Linked DNA regions of Homo sapiens: region 2 is linked to region 1. The links come from fine-mapping of genetic effects on gene expression. Tissue or cell type: testis. Region 1 holds a variant in brackets; the other region holds the start of a gene. All regions are shown on one strand. Distances are from middle to middle.

Region 1 (8,179 bases):
CCATATGGTCCCATTGTTCATCTCCCACTTATGAGTGAGAACATGCGGTGTTTAGTTTTCTGTTCCTGTGTTTGCTGAGAATGATGGCCTCCAGCTTCATCCATGTCCCTACAAAGGACATGAACTCATTCTTTTTTATGGCTGCATACTATTCCATTATGTATATATGCCACATTTTCTTTAGTCTATCATTGATGGGCATTTGGGTTGGTTCCAAGTCTTTGCTGTTGTAAATAGTGTAGCAATAAACACGTGTGCATGTGTCTTTATAGTAGAATGACTTATATTCCTTTGGGTATACTCAGTAATAGGATTGCTGGGTCAAATGGTATTTCCGGTTCTAGATCAAAGGCTAATAGTCTTGCTGCCTTTGCAGAATCGCGTCCTAGTGGGTCCCTTCCCTTCCTGCCCACCAGTGCCTGGGCCTTTTTGTGATCCACCTTTCAATTGTTCTGGCTTCTCACGAACTTCCCAGGAAGACCCTCTAGACACAGGAGAGAGGAAAGAGAATGGGACGAAGGGCTTGGAAACTTGAGGGACCCATTGGAGCATGGAGTTCAAAGTGGAGAAAGAGGTGAGATGTTTAATCTCCACCACCTCCTACCTACCTCAATAATTCAATAACACATGTTCTTATTGAGCAATTTCGGTCTTTGTCAGGCACTGAGACACAGGTGATATCTATAGCCCTGCGTTGATGGAGTTTTATGGCTGGTGTGGGAGAAACAGTAGATAAATAATGGTGCAATTTCAGCAGTGACAAAGGCTGGAGGAAGTGGATGCTGTGAGAACCTAGCCTGGTGCTGGAAATGTCAGGAATTAAGGTACCTTAAGAAAAGATACCTATTCTAAGACTGGAATGATGAGCAAGGGTTTCACTTGGCAAAGAGGTGGGGAAAGAATAGCTTTCCAGGGGAGGGAATAGCATCGTGGATGCCTGGAGGCAGCAAGGGGGAACCGTGTTTACGCATAGAGACCCAGTGTGGCTGTGGCTTACTAAATCAGCAGGAATAGGGAGGGTGGGAAATGAGGCTGGGGTAGTCTGCGCAGGCCTGCCACGAGGAGCTCAGGGGTTATCCTAACTGCACTGGGAAGCCATTGAGGGGTTTTGTACAGGATCCCACCTGCTGAAGGGATGGGACCCAGATTATTTGCAGGGGGGGAGGAAATGGGCTGAGAAGACATTTGGAGTCGGGGGCCTGCTGAATCACTTGTGAATGACCCACTCCAGTTTACCAAGCACTTCCTGTGTGGTATCACCCCCTGCCAGGCCTCAGGGTGATGCAGAGATGCCCAGGTGGGGTGTCCTGACCCCTGGGCAGGCCTTTACAAAATAAATGGAAGGGAAGAGTTCTCTGGAATCACAGGCAAAGGAAATTTAAAACAAATACTCTTATTATAGGCATTTGCAAACCTTTGCAAAAGTAGAGGGAATATATAATAAGGTACCACAAATCTGTTAAGCCCAACGATTACCTGCCTTTGTCCAATCTTGTTTTATTTGTGCTCCCATCCCCTCCCCCAATCCCCTTGCCCTCCACCCCCTAGATTATTTTAAACCACATTTCTGACTTACTGTTTTAAATGCAAATATTTCAGAATGTATCTTCCAGGAAGAAGACATAATGATAATACCATTATCATATTTAAGAAAACATTAATTCAATAATGCCGCCTAATATATACACTCCAGATTCCTCAATTGTCTCAAAAAATGCCTTTTTTTAAGAAAGAAAAAAGAGAGAGATGGGGTCTTGTTCTGTACCTCAGGCTACAGTACAGTGACACCATTATAGCTCGTGAATTCTAGAACTCCTGGGCTCAAGCGATCCTTCCACCTCAACCTCTCAAAGCCTAGGGTTACAGGTGTGCGCCACCATACCTGGCCCCCAAATCCCTTTTATGGCTGCTTTTCTCCCCAGTCCAGGATCCCTTCAGGTTCACACACAGATACACTGGTTGCTGTGTCTCTGTTGTTTCTCTCTCTCTCTCTCTTCCCCCACCAAAAAACTGCTTTATTGAGCTGTAATTCACATACCCATACAATTCACCCATTTAAAGTGTATACAATTCAGTGTTTTTTACTATATTTACAAAGTTTTACAACCATCATCAAATCTATTTTAGAACATTTTCATCAACCCAAGCAGAATCACCTGAAGACTTAGGCAGCCCCTAATCTTTCTGTCTCTATGGGTTTGCCTCTTCTGGACATTTCATATAAATGGTATCATACTATCTGTGGTCTTTTGTGTCTGGCCTCTTTCACCTGGAATTCCAAGGTTCATTCACATCGCGGCATGGATGAACACTCCATTCCTTTTTATGACAGAAGAATATTCTGTCGTATGGATAGAACGTTTCATCCAAGTTGTTGCCTGTCTCGTTGCCTCTACACTCAATCCCTTACACCTTTTTTTCTTTTTTTTTTTTTTCATCACCTTGACGATTTATTTTTGAGGAGTCCAGGTCAGGTGTCTTATAGAATAACCTGCGTTCTTGGTCTGACTGTTCTCTTATGCGTAGGTTCAGGTTCTGGAGTTTGGGCAAGAATAGCTGGACAGGGCATGTGGGGTTCTTTTTACTGCATTTGGGGGCACAACCACCCAGGTTGGCACCCTACTCATGAGGCTCAGTTTGCACTCTCGGTTAAGGTGCTGACTGCCAGATTTCTCCTTTGCAGGGGTACATTTTCCCTTTCTAATTTGTCAGTCATCTGTGAGGTGCCAGTGTAAGACCCTGTGAGTATCCTGTGCCCTGGCAGTCTTTCCATCCCCTGCTTTCAGCATCCTTGAGGATCATGGCCTGAGTCCCCTTTGAGGCTGGGGTTTGCAAATGGTGGTCATCCAATTTCTTGTACATTTTTTATTGGCATTCTTCTGAAATAAATGTTCTCTCCCTTCCCCTTTGGAGTTAGTTAGTTAGTTGCAGTCATTCATTCATATTTGTGCTCAAATTGTCGCAGATTTGGCCTGTGGTAGCCCTTTAAGTTGTTTATGTTCTTTTGTTATCTCTCCATTATTCTCTGAATACTTTCTTACCTCTTGGTACAATAGGATATTCCAAATACCTGCCTTTGAAATTAGTACCAAGGAGCTTCCGGTAATATTTGGAAACCAATTTCTAGCCAGTAGATGTTGTCACTGTGATGAGATGTCATTCCTTCTGGGCCCTTTCAATGGAGAATTATGATAGTGTGTGTGTCACGTGTGTGTGTGTGTGTGTGTGTGTGTGTATAAAATGCACGTGATATGTATATGAAGTTGGAGCAGTAGGCACAGGTTATCAGCAGCACAGGCAGAGCCTGAGATTGCCTGTGATCTACCTTGGCCCTCAGTGGTTGAAGTAAAACACTGCTAATAGAACAGAGACCAGGGAAGGTGCTGACACCTAACACGTGGAACACCCAACCTCAATGCCATTACTTGTATTCCTATCCTAGCCAAGTTATAAGGAGGAGGTGCGACCTCTGCGTCAAGCCTTATTCTACAGAGATTTATACACAGTGGTCCCAAAATATATGTTTGTGGTTGATGGAAATCTTTTTTGCCTTCCTGCAAAGACACATGGAAAACAAAATATTGTCTCAGGTCTCAAAGTGGAGAGATGGCGGAAGATAGAGGAAAGAGTTATGCAGGCTTGGATTCTAATTTCCACTCCTCTGTTTACTATAGCCTTGTGACCCTGGACAGTTTTACTTCTGCAAGCCCCAATTTCATGATCTGCAAAATGGAGTTGATGCCATTTAACTTGCTGGGGTTGTAAGGATGAAATGAGATTAAATATGTCAGATGGCTAACCTGGAGCCTGCCGTAATAAGCAAGCACTCAGTAGACAGTCGCTCTTGCACTGCTTCTCCCCTTAGCCCCCTCATCACCAACATCATCAGCATCCATAGGCAGACTCGAAGGCTGTTGCCAAGGCTGCTGGAGTGCTGGTTCCCCTCTCTGGGGGGCTGCAGTGGGAACGCGGTGGTGATGGTGGTAATGTGTCCATGACAGGAAGACAGACTCCTGCAGACTGCAGAATCCATCCCATAGGCTACTCTTTCCCCTTCCTGCCATGTATTTGCTTGGCTAGAGTCTGTACGTGAATGAACCTATGGAGAGAGAGACTTCTATCCCTGTCTCTTCTCCTTGGTGACTGGTACCTCCTGCCATGTAGCCTCCGTCTGCCTTTCTCCCTGTGCAGTTTTGTCAAGTGGGAAGGTATAGGGTGGGCCAGCTGGATGAGATGATGCACTAAAAATGTCTATGGAAGCTGTAGTTGGCCATAAAGTTGACGTTGGCCAGGAGCCCGTTGGGGTCACTAGAGGAGTTGCCATAAGTAGAGGTACCTCAGTGAAACCACAGTGTAGATCA[G/C]ATCCATGTATCTCTGAGTGAGGTCCACAGATTCTGCAAATCAGAGGTGCTGGCACCACCTGGGACCTGCTGGATCAGGCCCAGCAGCTGAGAGTGCAGCTGGGACTCTATTTTGGACACTTTTTCCTCAGTTGATTCTGATGCACCTCAAAGCTTGAGGACCAGTGATAACCATCCATTTGACAGATGGAGAAATTGAGGCTCAAAGAAGTCAGATTCTCTGGCCAGGGTCTCAAGGCTAGTAATCATTTTCTTGTCTGTGAAATTAATGCTCTGTAAGGTTCATTTTTGCTAGACACCTTAAGGATATCAGTTTTCCTGAGTTGACTTTAATTAGCAACCCAAGTAAGACTGTATGGGAGTAAGGGTATGCGACCTTAGCAGGGGCATAGTCAAGCTCCCTGGTTTGCCTAATTTGCTGACGGGTTTCTGAGGCAAAGGCTCGCCCTCACCTGCAGATGGTCATTTGGCCAGGTGTCCAGGGTCGTGCTGGCCTGAGGGGCGGGGTGCCCCCCACTCCAAGCCGGTGGTTCCTTCTTGTTGAAGCCCCTCCATCCTTTTTCTGGCCTTTATCTATAAAGTGACAGCCACTTCCTTACATTCTACCAAGGAAGAGTAAGGCCAGACTGGCCGCAGTGGCTCATGCCTATAATCCCAGCACTTTGGGAGGCCGAGACAGGTGGATCGCCTGAGGTCAAAAGTTCGAGACCAGCCTGGCCAACATGGTGAAACCCTGTCTCTACTAAAAATACAAAAATTAGCTGGGCGTGCTGGCGGGCACCTGTAATCCCAGCTACTCAGGAGGCTGAGGCAGGAGAATTGCTTGAACCTGGGAGGCAGAGGTTGCTGTGAGCCATGATCACGCCACTGCACTCCAACCTGGGTGACAGAATGACACTCCATCTTAAAAAAAAAAAAAAAGAATAAGGTCATGCACAAGTCCTGGGGCACAAGTGTGATGGCCACCTGCGGTGCCTTAGGGGTAAGCCTGCTTCCCAGGTTGCTGTGTGGCTCAGGATAGGAGACATCCCAGGTCCTGCTTGGGGATCTCTGGTATTGAGCCCCCAACATAATTGCTAATAGAACAACAGAGACCCAGAATCAAACATTCTTTGGAGTCGTAGGCTCTTAGGACACGTGTAGCATTTTGCACTGGCAGTCCTTAATTTTCTCTGCCAGAACGATCCCAGGACTTTGGCAAACTGCTGAGGACCCCAGGCTCAGAGGTACTTGGGACTCTGGTTTTCTTACTGGCGGTGGAAGACATCAAAAGGCAATATAAAGACTGAGTGGAAGCTGGAAGTCGGTTTGGCTGAGAAATCCCTCCTGGCTCACGGGGTTGGGGGAGCGGGGAGTCAGGGAGGTGACCGAGCAGCGCCCCAGTGCACATTGTGTGTATTTAGGTTTGACGTTTTGGACCCGGGGGGTTTCAGAATAAAATGTCGTGTGCTGATTCCTCAGTGCCAGGAGGTGGTGGCCTTAACTCTCTTCTCCCCAGTGGATTCCGCGGCTTCAGGCAGCAAGCGGCACGCGGAACGTTCACCAGCAGAGGGCAGCGGAGGGGTTAACTCCCCAAATCACAGACTGAGAGAAGAGGAGGGGAGACCTGGTTTGGAGCAGTTCTCTCAGAGCCTGTGCAGGAGGCTTCCTTAATTCGCCTTCAGCCCGAGAGCTGGGCGTGGGAACAGCGTGGGGTCAGGGAGACCCCTGCTTGCCCTGGCCCAGAATATGGTGACTTAGGATTCAGACTGAGCATCCCTGATTCCCCAGCGCCTCCACCCTCAGGGAACCTGAATGGGGGGAAAAAATGTCCAATATGGAGAACAGCTTTGACGATGTTTCTTGCCTCTCTCCCCAGAACCTGGGATCCTCATCGCCAAGCAAAAAGCAGAGCAAGGAAAACACCATCACAGTAAGTGGCTCCCGAGGGGCGCCCTCAGGGTGGGCTGCGAGCTGGGGCATTTGGCTGGGCTGTTGCCATGGCGATGTGGACCGCCAAGCAGAAGTGATGCCCAACCTGGAAACGGGGAAGTTCCAAAGCTCGGATTTCACTCAAGTTCCCCATCCACATGCCCCTCCCACCTCCCCTTCTCCTGTCAATTTCACATTTCACTTCTCTCCTGGTGAACAAGTGGAAGGAGGATGGCTGGGATGATGCAGAAGCCGTTTTTTCAGGGCAGGAGGGGAAGGTATGCGTGCGGGAGTGGGTTGAAGGGGGTGGACTGTGCTCAGCGCAAGTGATGTGACGTGTAAATTACAGCCACGGCAGGGTTGCTTTTGTGCGGGGTAACTTCTGGAAGATGTCAAAGTAAAAAGCAAGAGAAAGCGTCCTAAGAATAGAGTTCCTAGGAGTCCCTGAGGGGAGCAGGCAGCTTCTGCCTAGAGTGGCCAGCCTGCCTCCCAGGGCGCTTCGAGATGCCCAACCCCATGTGGAGATGAGGGGGAGCCCACCCCACCCACCCCCATGCAGAGATGAAGGGGAGCCCCACACTCCACCTCTGCTCCTCAGCCCTGTGTTTGGGGCAGCTGGGGCTGGACATCATTGCCCCCTGAGGGGCACAGGCCTGAGAAGTGTGGTCGCAGGTTTGCTATTTTGGCACAAGGGCAGGAGAGCAGGGAACGGGGTATTGCTCTCTTAGGCTCCAACTCACACAGCTCTGAGCCATTCCGACCACCCCTGTGGAGACAAAACCAAGAGTGGGTGCATTTCCCTGCTTCGTCCAGGCTGCACATCCTGCTTTGGGAGAAAAAGTGTAGGTAAACAATTAACAATAACAATTGCTGCAACTTTTGTGTGCACTTATTATGCACATGTAGTGATCCAAGTGGCTCATTTAATTGTCCATTAGCTATATGAAGTGTCAGTCGTGGAATCAATATAGTATAACGATGATGAACGTGGACTCTGAGGCCAGAGTGTCGGTTATATTAATGACAGTGCAACAGCCTGGGGCAAGTTTCTTGACTTCTTCCCGTCTCAGTCAATAACTGTCAAGTGGGGAAATGGGGGGTAGTGGGTGGTCTCTGCCTTAGGGATGGTGTAGGGACTAAATGGGTCCATCCATGGAAAGCACTTAGAACAGAGCCTGCATATAGTAAGTGCTCTGTGCACACTCATCACCCTGTTTACAGATGAGGAAACTGAGGCACAGAGCCGCACCTTGCTCACGGTCACCCAGCTGGGAAGTATCAGGATTTGAAATCTATGTCCTTACCACAGTGCCCCTTCTGGAGCTGGCTTGGGTTCCTTGTGTCATGAGCTCCTTTGGAGTGCCCTGTGCTGATGGACGGTGTCTCCAAGGGCTGGGCAGAACGACTCAGCCTGCTTGGACTGTGGGGTAGCAGCAGCCTCCCTGTTACCGGTGGAGTTGATGGAGCTGGTGGGTAGGGGGTGTGGGCAGGCTCAGGTGCAGAGTTCCAGAGGGTACAGTCCCCATCTTCAAATTGTCACAAAATGCCCCAGAATGCTGGGGCACAGCAGGAGCTCTCCAGAGTCTTCTGAAATACATAAAAAGGAGGGGGAGGAGAAAGGGGGGGAGGTCGGAGTGGGAGACATATTTGAATTCTAGAAGAAAAACAAAAATGCAAAGTGAAAAGCAGAGTGTTATGTCGTGGAGGGTTGCCTTAAAGGCGCTTAGTGATGGTGCCCAGGCCACAGGGTGGGGCACCTGCTGGAGTCCATCTTACAGCCAGGGCTTCGGGTGTGGCCGGAGGGGGCTGATGGCGGCCCTTGTTGGGCCCCTGATGGGCAGCACACCTCGCCCATCCCTGCCTTCCCTGTCGCTTCCTGCTGAGCCATATCATTGCTTCTCATGAGG
Region 2 (8,179 bases), 57 kb after region 1:
CCAGAGGGCAGGAGGGTCGTCTTGGCCTTCAGCTCATAGCAGGCAAGGTCGAGCAATGGGGAAGGGGTGGCGTCTGGGTCCCAGCTAATGGCCAAGATGGAGCTCCTGCTTGAGGGGACAGGGCCAGCTTCTGGGAAGCATCTTTCAGTCCAGCGAGGAGAGCGAGACCAAAACTGGGATCCTCTGCCTGGAGATGAAGCCTTCTCCTCTAGAGCAGTCTTTGGGTTTTGGGAGAGTTTATGGCCCCAGCTCAGACTTAACAAATCGACTCACAATACATCATCTCCAACAACTTGTTTGGCTAAGGAGCATAAGCTCTCCCTCTGATAGAAGATGTTTATGCAGGTTTTCAAACAAACCTCCAGGTCATGACCCCTCACTCTCAGCATCAACACAGCTGCCTGCGGTCCCCTGGGGCCCCTCCTGGGCACAGCAACCTGGAGAATGTGGACTGTACCAGGCTGCTTCCGACCTGGGTCCAGCTCCTTCCTCCTTGTGCCTGGAGAGGACAGCAAAGACTGGAGGGCTCTGGCTGCCTTCTGCCTCGCCCAGGGCCTCTTTCATTGACATGGTAACCCCACCTCCTCACCTACTTGTCCTCTAGGCTCAGGCCTCCTGTGACGTAGACAAAGGAAGCCTAAATGGACAGGCTGGCAGACCTGGACTTTCCTTCCTTCTGGCATTGCCATTTAGCAACCATGTGACCCCAGGCTGGTGACATGCCTTTAGGAGGCCCCACTTCTCACTTGTAACACTGGCTTCGCCTCATCTGCTGCAGGCTTGATGTGGACAGGGGTGCGATCCAGGAGGCACTTCCAGTCGCCCCCTACTAGTGGCTCAGAGCAAGGGGCCGAGGCCTCTGACCTCACTCTCCCTCCATCCCCAGGGCTGCAAGGAAGCTCTGGAATGAATGCGATTCCAGGGTGTGGCTTGGGCTCCCGTTTGTTTTCAAGGCTAGTGACTGTCCTGTTTCTAACTGCTCTTGAGAATAAATGCACGCTACAGGATGGTGAAAGCCTAGGAGAGGAAGGACTCCTATTCAGAAGTAATATTCTCACTGGGCGCAGTGGCTCATGCCTGTAATCCCAGCACTTGGGGAGGCCAAAGCAGGCAGATCATGAGGTCAGGGGATCGAGACCGGCCTGACCAACAAGGTGAAATCCCATCTCTGCTAAAAACACAAAAATTAGCTGGGCATGGTGGTGAGCGCCTGTAATCCCAGCTACTTGGGAGGCTGAGGCAGGAAAATCGCTTGAACCTGGGAGGCAGAGGTTGCAGTGAGCCGAGATCGTGCCATTGCACTCCAGCCTGGGCGCAGAATGAGGCTCTGTCTTAAAAAAAAAAAAACAAAAAAAACAAACAAACAAAAAAAAAAAAACTCACAAAGTGATGGAAAAAAATTAGAAAGTTCACACACACACCCCAATATGCAGGTTTCCTGAGAAATCTCTGAAACTGTACTGGGCAGAGCGGCTGGGAGGGATGAGTCTGCCCCTTGGTGCCTGAACCTCTCGGTCCTTCCAGAGTGACATGAGGTGGGCCTGGCAGGTGGCTTTCTCCCAGCAGCAGGGACCTACCTTCTGCTGCCACTAGCCTGTTAGTAAGTAGGCTAAAATCCCCACTTTACACTTTGAGATGCAAGGCGGGCGGATCACCTGAGGTCAGGAGTTTACGAGACCAGCCTGACCAATATGGTGAAACCTCGACTCTACTAAAAATACCAAAAAAAAATTAGCTGGGCGTGGTGGCAGACACCTGTAGTCCCAGCTTCTCAGGGGACTGAGACAGGAGAATTGCTTGAAACCAGGAGGCGGAGGTTGCAGTGAGCCAAGATCGTGCCCAGCCTAAGTGACAGAGGGAGACTCCGTCTAAAAAAAAACCAGTTTACCTGCCTGGAGACCGTGGGGTTTATTCTTCATCATTCTCACCCCAGGGCAAAAAGAGACAACTCTCCATCCACGGTGGCAAGGCTGGGGTTCTGAGTGTGTCCCCTCGAGCACTGCGCTCCGCTAAGGAAAGTGCACGCCCACCCTCCCTTCCTTCTGGGTGACAAGAATCCAGGTGTGCAGCGTCCTCACTAGGTTGCTTCCTCGTGCTTGATACTCCCCGCTGAGCTGCACAGACGCGAAGCCTGCCTTTGCACAGCTCCGTCTCTGACCACTCAGTTATTTATCCATTCACTCAGCAAACACGTTTTCTTGCCTGCTCACTCCAAGTCCACTGCAGACGGACACCCTGCAGCCTGCCATGGACCCACAGATAGATTGTGTTTGGCCCACACCATGTTTTGTTTTGTTTTTGTTTTTGTTTTTGTTTTGTTTTTTTGAGATGGAGTCTCACACTTGTCACCCAGGCTGGAGTGCAATGGTGCAATCTCGGCTCACTGCAACCTCTGCCTCCCGGGTTCAAGCGATTCTCCAGCCTCAGCCTCCCAAGTAGCTGGGATTACAGTCACCTGCCACCATGCCCGGCTAATTTTTTGTATTTTTAGTAGAGACAGGGTTTCACCATGTTGGCCAGGCTGGTCTCGAACTCCTAACCTTGTAATCTCCCCACTCAGTCTCCCAAAGTGCTGGGATTACAGACGTGAGCCACCATTAAAATTTTGAATTAATTGCCAAAGTTGAAAAGTGTGGAAATTGCAAGAAAAATTCTGATTTTTGGATTTCTCTTGAATAATTTAAAAAAACCCAAAAATCTCACCATCCCATGTGACCACGTTCTCTGGCAGCCCCTTCCCGAGGTGACACAGGCCTGGCTGCCCCCTGCTGGTCCCTTCAGGCAGTTCACCTTCACTCCCTGTGACTGATGGACAATAACAAAACGAGTGTTTAGCATTAGCCATGTGCCAGTTTCTAAGTGTGTCAGACATATTGACTCACATCAGCCTCACAATGACAGTGTGGTAGATGCTATGATGCCCATTTATTCAAGAAAGACTTGCTGGGGGCCCAAGCCTATCAGGTTCTGGCAATGGAAATGCATCCGGGAACAACACAGACAAAATCCCATCCTTCACGGAGCTTTCATTCCGGTGAGGGGACATGCAGCGTGCCGATGATGGTGGGGGTTGTGCTATTATAGATAGAGGGTCAGTATAGGCCTGGCTGAGCAGGTGACATTTAAGCAGAGACATGACTGCAGTGAAGGTTTAGAAGAGTGTCCCAGGTGGAAAGAGGTGAAGAAACAAGCCTGGGGCCACACAGCTAGTTAAGTAGCCAAGCTGGGACTTGAACCCATGCTGGCCCCAGAGTCTGTGCTCCTAACCATTGCATTCTAGGGCTTGATATGAGATGCCAGCCCCGCCCCGAGATGCTCAGAGTTAGTGAGGAAGAGAAACAGGGAACATGGCTGCTGTTAGAGGGCTGGGGCTGGGGGTGCCGGAGGCCCCAGCTCTGAGGGTTCCAACCTCCTGTCCTGTTCTAGTATCGTCCCGGGAGGCCGAGATGAATTGCCTGCCTGCCCTGGGCTCTTTATTTTAATCTCACTAGGGTTCTGGGAGCACCCCCCCCCACCGCTCCCGCCCTCCACAAAGCTCCTGGGCCCCTCCTCCCTTCAAGGATTGCGAAGAACTGGTCGCAAATCCTCCTAAGCCACCAGCATCTCGGTCTTCAGCTCACACCAGCCTTGAGCCCAGCCTGCGGCCAGGGGACCACGCACGTCCCACCCACCCAGCGACTCCCCAGCCGCTGCCCACTCTTCCTCACTCATGGGGAACAGCAAAAGTGGGGCCCTGTCCAAGGAGATCCTGGAGGAGCTGCAGCTGAACACCAAGTTCTCGGAGGAGGAGCTGTGCTCCTGGTACCAGTCCTTCCTGAAGGACTGTCCCACCGGCCGCATCACCCAGCAGCAGTTCCAGAGCATCTACGCCAAGTTCTTCCCCGACACCGACCCCAAGGCCTACGCCCAGCATGTGTTCCGCAGCTTCGATTCCAACCTCGACGGCACCCTGGACTTCAAGGAGTACGTCATCGCCCTGCACATGACCACCGCGGGCAAGACCAACCAGAAGCTGGAGTGGGCCTTCTCCCTCTACGACGTGGACGGTAACGGGACCATCAGCAAGAATGAAGTGCTGGAGATCGTCATGGTCAGTCTCCCCTCTCCCCTTCTGGCTGGGCGGTGCCGGGGTCGCTCCGGGCTGGGGGTCCCCTGCTGCAGCTGCTGCAGAGGGAGTGGATCTGTGGGTGGAGCGGGGGATGCGGGCCACTGGCTCTGAGAGCGTGGTGCTCCGAGATGCTGATATTGATAGAGGGGTGGGCACTTGCCCACAGCTTCGTTGTCTTCCCGGAGCAGAATCTGAGTGTTTCCTAATACAGCCATGTTATGCTTGGCTTCACGATGTTTGGGTCAACAACGGACGATATAGACCACTGTGGTCCCATAAGATTGTAATGGAGCTGAAAAATTCCTACTGCCTAGTGACGTCATAGCACAGTTACTTTATTTTTCAAATGCATTTAGTGTAGCCTAAGTGTATCCGTAAAGTCTGTAGTTGTGTACGGTAATGTCCTAGTTCTTCACATTCACTCACTACTCACTCACTGACTCACCCAGAGCAACTCCCAGTCCTGCAAGCTCCACTCATGGTGAGTGCCCTAGACAGGTCTACCATTTTGTATCTTGGTTTTTTATTTTTTATTTTTTTGAGATGGAGTCTCACTCTGTAGCCCAGAGCTGGAGTGCAATAGTGCGATCTTGGCTCACTGCAACCTCTGCCTCCCGAGTTCAAGCAATTCTCCTGTCTCAGCCTCCCGAGTAGCTGGGATTACAGGTGTGCACCACTATGCCTAGCTAATTTTTGTATTTTTAGTAGAGACGGGGTTTCACCATGTTGGTCAGGCTGGTCTCAAACTCCCGACCTCCAGCGATCCGCCAGCCTCAGCCTCCCAAAGTGCTGGGATTTACAGGCATGAGCCACTGTGCCCGGCCCATTTTTTATCTTTATACTGTATTTTTACTGCATGATTTCTATGTTTAGCTATGTTTAGATGCACAAATACTTACCATCGTGTGACAACTGCCTGCAACATTCAGGACAGTCACGTGCTGCACAGGTTTGTAGCCTAGGAGCAAAAGGCTGGACCATGGAGCTCAGGGATGTAGTCGGCTCTACCATCTGTGTTCGTGCAAGGATGCTCTATGATGTTCCCACATAGAAGTTGCCTTAAGATGTGTTTCTCGGAATGTATTCCTGTCTCTGAGCGACACGTGACTATATTTACATTTTTTCTTTCTCTCCATCCTTTGTTTCTTCCTTCCTTTATTAAAATGTCCTTTGAAATTTTCAGCAGTACACATTCAAGTTGAATCACTGTTCATTCTAAACACACAATATGCTTCTAATATAAAGTAGAAAGAGGTCAAAGTTGGGGGCATGAACTCTGAGTTCTAGTCCTCATGTTCTCCCCAGCGCGGGGCGGATCATGGCACCACGCATGAGCCCCCGCTTCCCACGCGCGGCGTGGCTCCCCGGCTCCTGACAGTTTCCCTGTGAGGCGCACAGGCTTCCATATGGTTCCCAACACGCCTTCTCCCCTGTCCATACTGTCCTCCTGTCAGATCCTTTGTTGTGAAAGTAATGGCAAAAACCATAATTACTTTTCCACTAACCTCGTAGGTGTCTTGAAAATGGTTTATCTGATATAAAAGTAACTCATGAAATTTAGAAACCTAGGCAAAAGAGACTAACAATTGCCTCTAATTCCAACATCCAGGGAAAACTTTTCTTAGTATATCAGTATATACCTTTTCAGTCTTTTACCTATATAATTTTAAATAATGTTAAAGCTATGACATATTCACATACGATTTTTTATCATACATTTTTCAGTTACTCTTTTATCATGAGTGCTTTCCATATCATTACATATTCTTCCAAAACACTTTTTTTTTTTCTTCAGACAGAGTTTTGCTCTTGTCGCCCAGGCTGGAGTGCAGTGGCGTGATCTCAGCTCACTGCAACCTCCCCCTCCTGGGTTTGAGCAATTCTCCTGCCTCAGCCTCACGAGTAGCTGGGATTACAGGCACCTGCCCAGCTAATTTTTGTATTTTAGTAGAGACGGGGTTTCACCATGTTGGCCAGGCTGGTCTCGAACTCCTGACCTCAGGTGATCTGCCCGCCTCGGCCTCCCAAAGTGCTGGGATTACAGGCGTGAGCTTCCGCACCCAACCTCTTCCAAAACTCTTTTAATAGCTGCTTGGAATTCTGGCTTATGGAAATGTGGAAATTATTGAACATTCCTATGTTTTTGGACATTAGGTTGTTTCCATTTCTTTCCTATTATACCAGTTCTAATTTCCTTCATTTGATTTTTTTTTAATTTATTCTTTTTCAGTCCCCCTGCCCCTGCCACTTACCTTATTCTTCTAATTCCATTCCTGTTAGTAGAGACTATTGTTTAGATGTTAATAACTTTGTGTGCATTGGCAATCATGCTTTCATTTGCATGATGACAAATGCACAAAAATCTTCCACAGTTATTAGGAGAAATCATAAATAAAACAGCAGAGCATGCAGCTTGTGGTCCATGGGCTTATCCTCAATGCTCAGCTCGGGCCTCCCATTCTGGCAGGCATGTGTCTCTCTCATTGTTATCTTGGCACAGCCTGCAGAGAAAGCTCCCTCGGATTGGCTGTGGGGTCTCTGGGTGGCCTGGGACAGGGACTAAGTCTTCAGAGTGGCATAAACAATGCAGGGCCCAGCAGAAGCCTACAAATTGATACTCATTGAATAAAAGGAGGAGGAAAGGGAGGAGGGGGAAATGAGGGAGGGAGAGAGGGAAGGTAGGAGTCAGGAAGGAAAGAGGGGGAAGCAAGGGGAAGGAGAGAAGGAAGGGAGGGAGGAGAAGGAAAGGAGGAGAGAAAGGAAGAAAGAAGAAAGGAAAGGGAGGGAGGGAGACTCCATCAATGGCTGGGGCTGTGCAAGGTGGCAGAAGGCTCTGCTATTCACCAGATTACAAGTTCATGGGCAGAGCACTGACTGAGGGAGTTAAAAGTGAAGGGTTCTAGTCCCAGCTCTGACTCCAACTAGCAGTGTTGCTGTGGGAAAACCATATAACCTTCCTGGGCCCAGGGTGAGGATTTGATTATTTTTGCAGTCTTTCCTGAGGCTCTGGAGGTCTGTCCCTCCGTGTTGGAAGTGGGGTGGGCAGGCACTCACTGCCAGCTTCTAGCTGGCACACCTGCACATGGTGCCCAAGGCCCTGCACAGATGGATAGGAGTGTAGGAGCCACCTACACTGGCGTCCAGCTCAGGGCTTTGAGTGCTGCCAGCGACGCTGCTGCCCTGGGCTGTGGCTTTGGCCTCTTTACTCCTTTATCCAGCACCAGGGGGCTGAAGGGAAACTTCTCAAAGCTGTCGACCTTCCCTCCAGGATAATTTCACAGCCATTATTGCCCCTGCCTGACCTGCTCACAGGTGTCTCCGGGGAGGCAGAACGCAAATGGTTTGCGAATGTTTTCTCCCATTCCATAAGTTACATTTTGATTTTGTTCATTGTTTCCTCTGACATGGAGAAGCTCTTTAGTGTGATGCTATCCTGCTTGTTTATTCTGGTTTATGTTGCCTTTGCTTTTGGTGTCATATCCAAAAAATTATCGTCAAGACCAGTGCCAAGAAGCTTTTCCCCTACGTTTTCCTCCAGCAGTTTGACGGTCTGAGGTCTTATGTTTAAGTCTTTAATCCATTTTGAGTAGATTTTTGTGTACAGTGTAAGATGTGGATTTTCCAGGGTTGCCAGCCCCTTAAAGTTCCTCCTAACGAGTTCTTTCTTTCTGTTTGGTACAGGCTATTTTCAAAATGATCACTCCCGAGGACGTGAAGCTCCTTCCAGACGATGAAAACACGCCGGAAAAGCGAGCCGAGAAGATCTGGAAGTACTTTGGAAAGAATGATGATGGTGAATTCCTTTTCCTTCATTGCCTTTGATTTTTCAACCATGGGCTGTTTCCTGGAAATCCCAACAAGATTTATTCTTCTGAGTCACAGTGTCCAGGCAGGATGGGGGACACCTCATTCCATTGTGCATTTTCAGAGCTGTTTGAAGGGTTGGACAGGGGAATGGCCTTAAGGGTGAGCAGGAGCCAAAACTGTTTTCTGTGCAATTAGAACAAGAGCAAACTTCAGCTCACCCTAGCTTTGAATTAATATCGAGTCCCAAGTCAGTGGGATCTGTAT

The links. PIP is the estimated chance that this variant, and not a neighbour inherited with it, causes the effect.
Region 2: it holds the start of RCVRN, and the variant in region 1 is fine-mapped to the expression of RCVRN in testis (GTEx, PIP 0.95).

What each region holds. Positions count from the first base shown.
Region 1 is chr17:9,957,296-9,965,474 of GRCh38, reverse strand. It overlaps GAS7 (growth arrest specific 7), which reads left to right. Exons shown (of 14, transcript NM_201433.2): 5 at 6,220-6,273. Among named protein-coding and RNA genes, the nearest start is that of RCVRN, 56 kb to the right of the region's middle. RefSeq lists a silencer at 6,462-6,655. The variant G/C (reference allele first, on the strand shown) is at 4,362.
Region 2 is chr17:9,900,711-9,908,889 of GRCh38, reverse strand. It overlaps RCVRN (recoverin), which reads left to right and starts at 3,619. Exons shown (of 3, transcript NM_002903.3): 1 at 3,619-4,090; 2 at 7,790-7,901. The coding sequence starts at 3,710.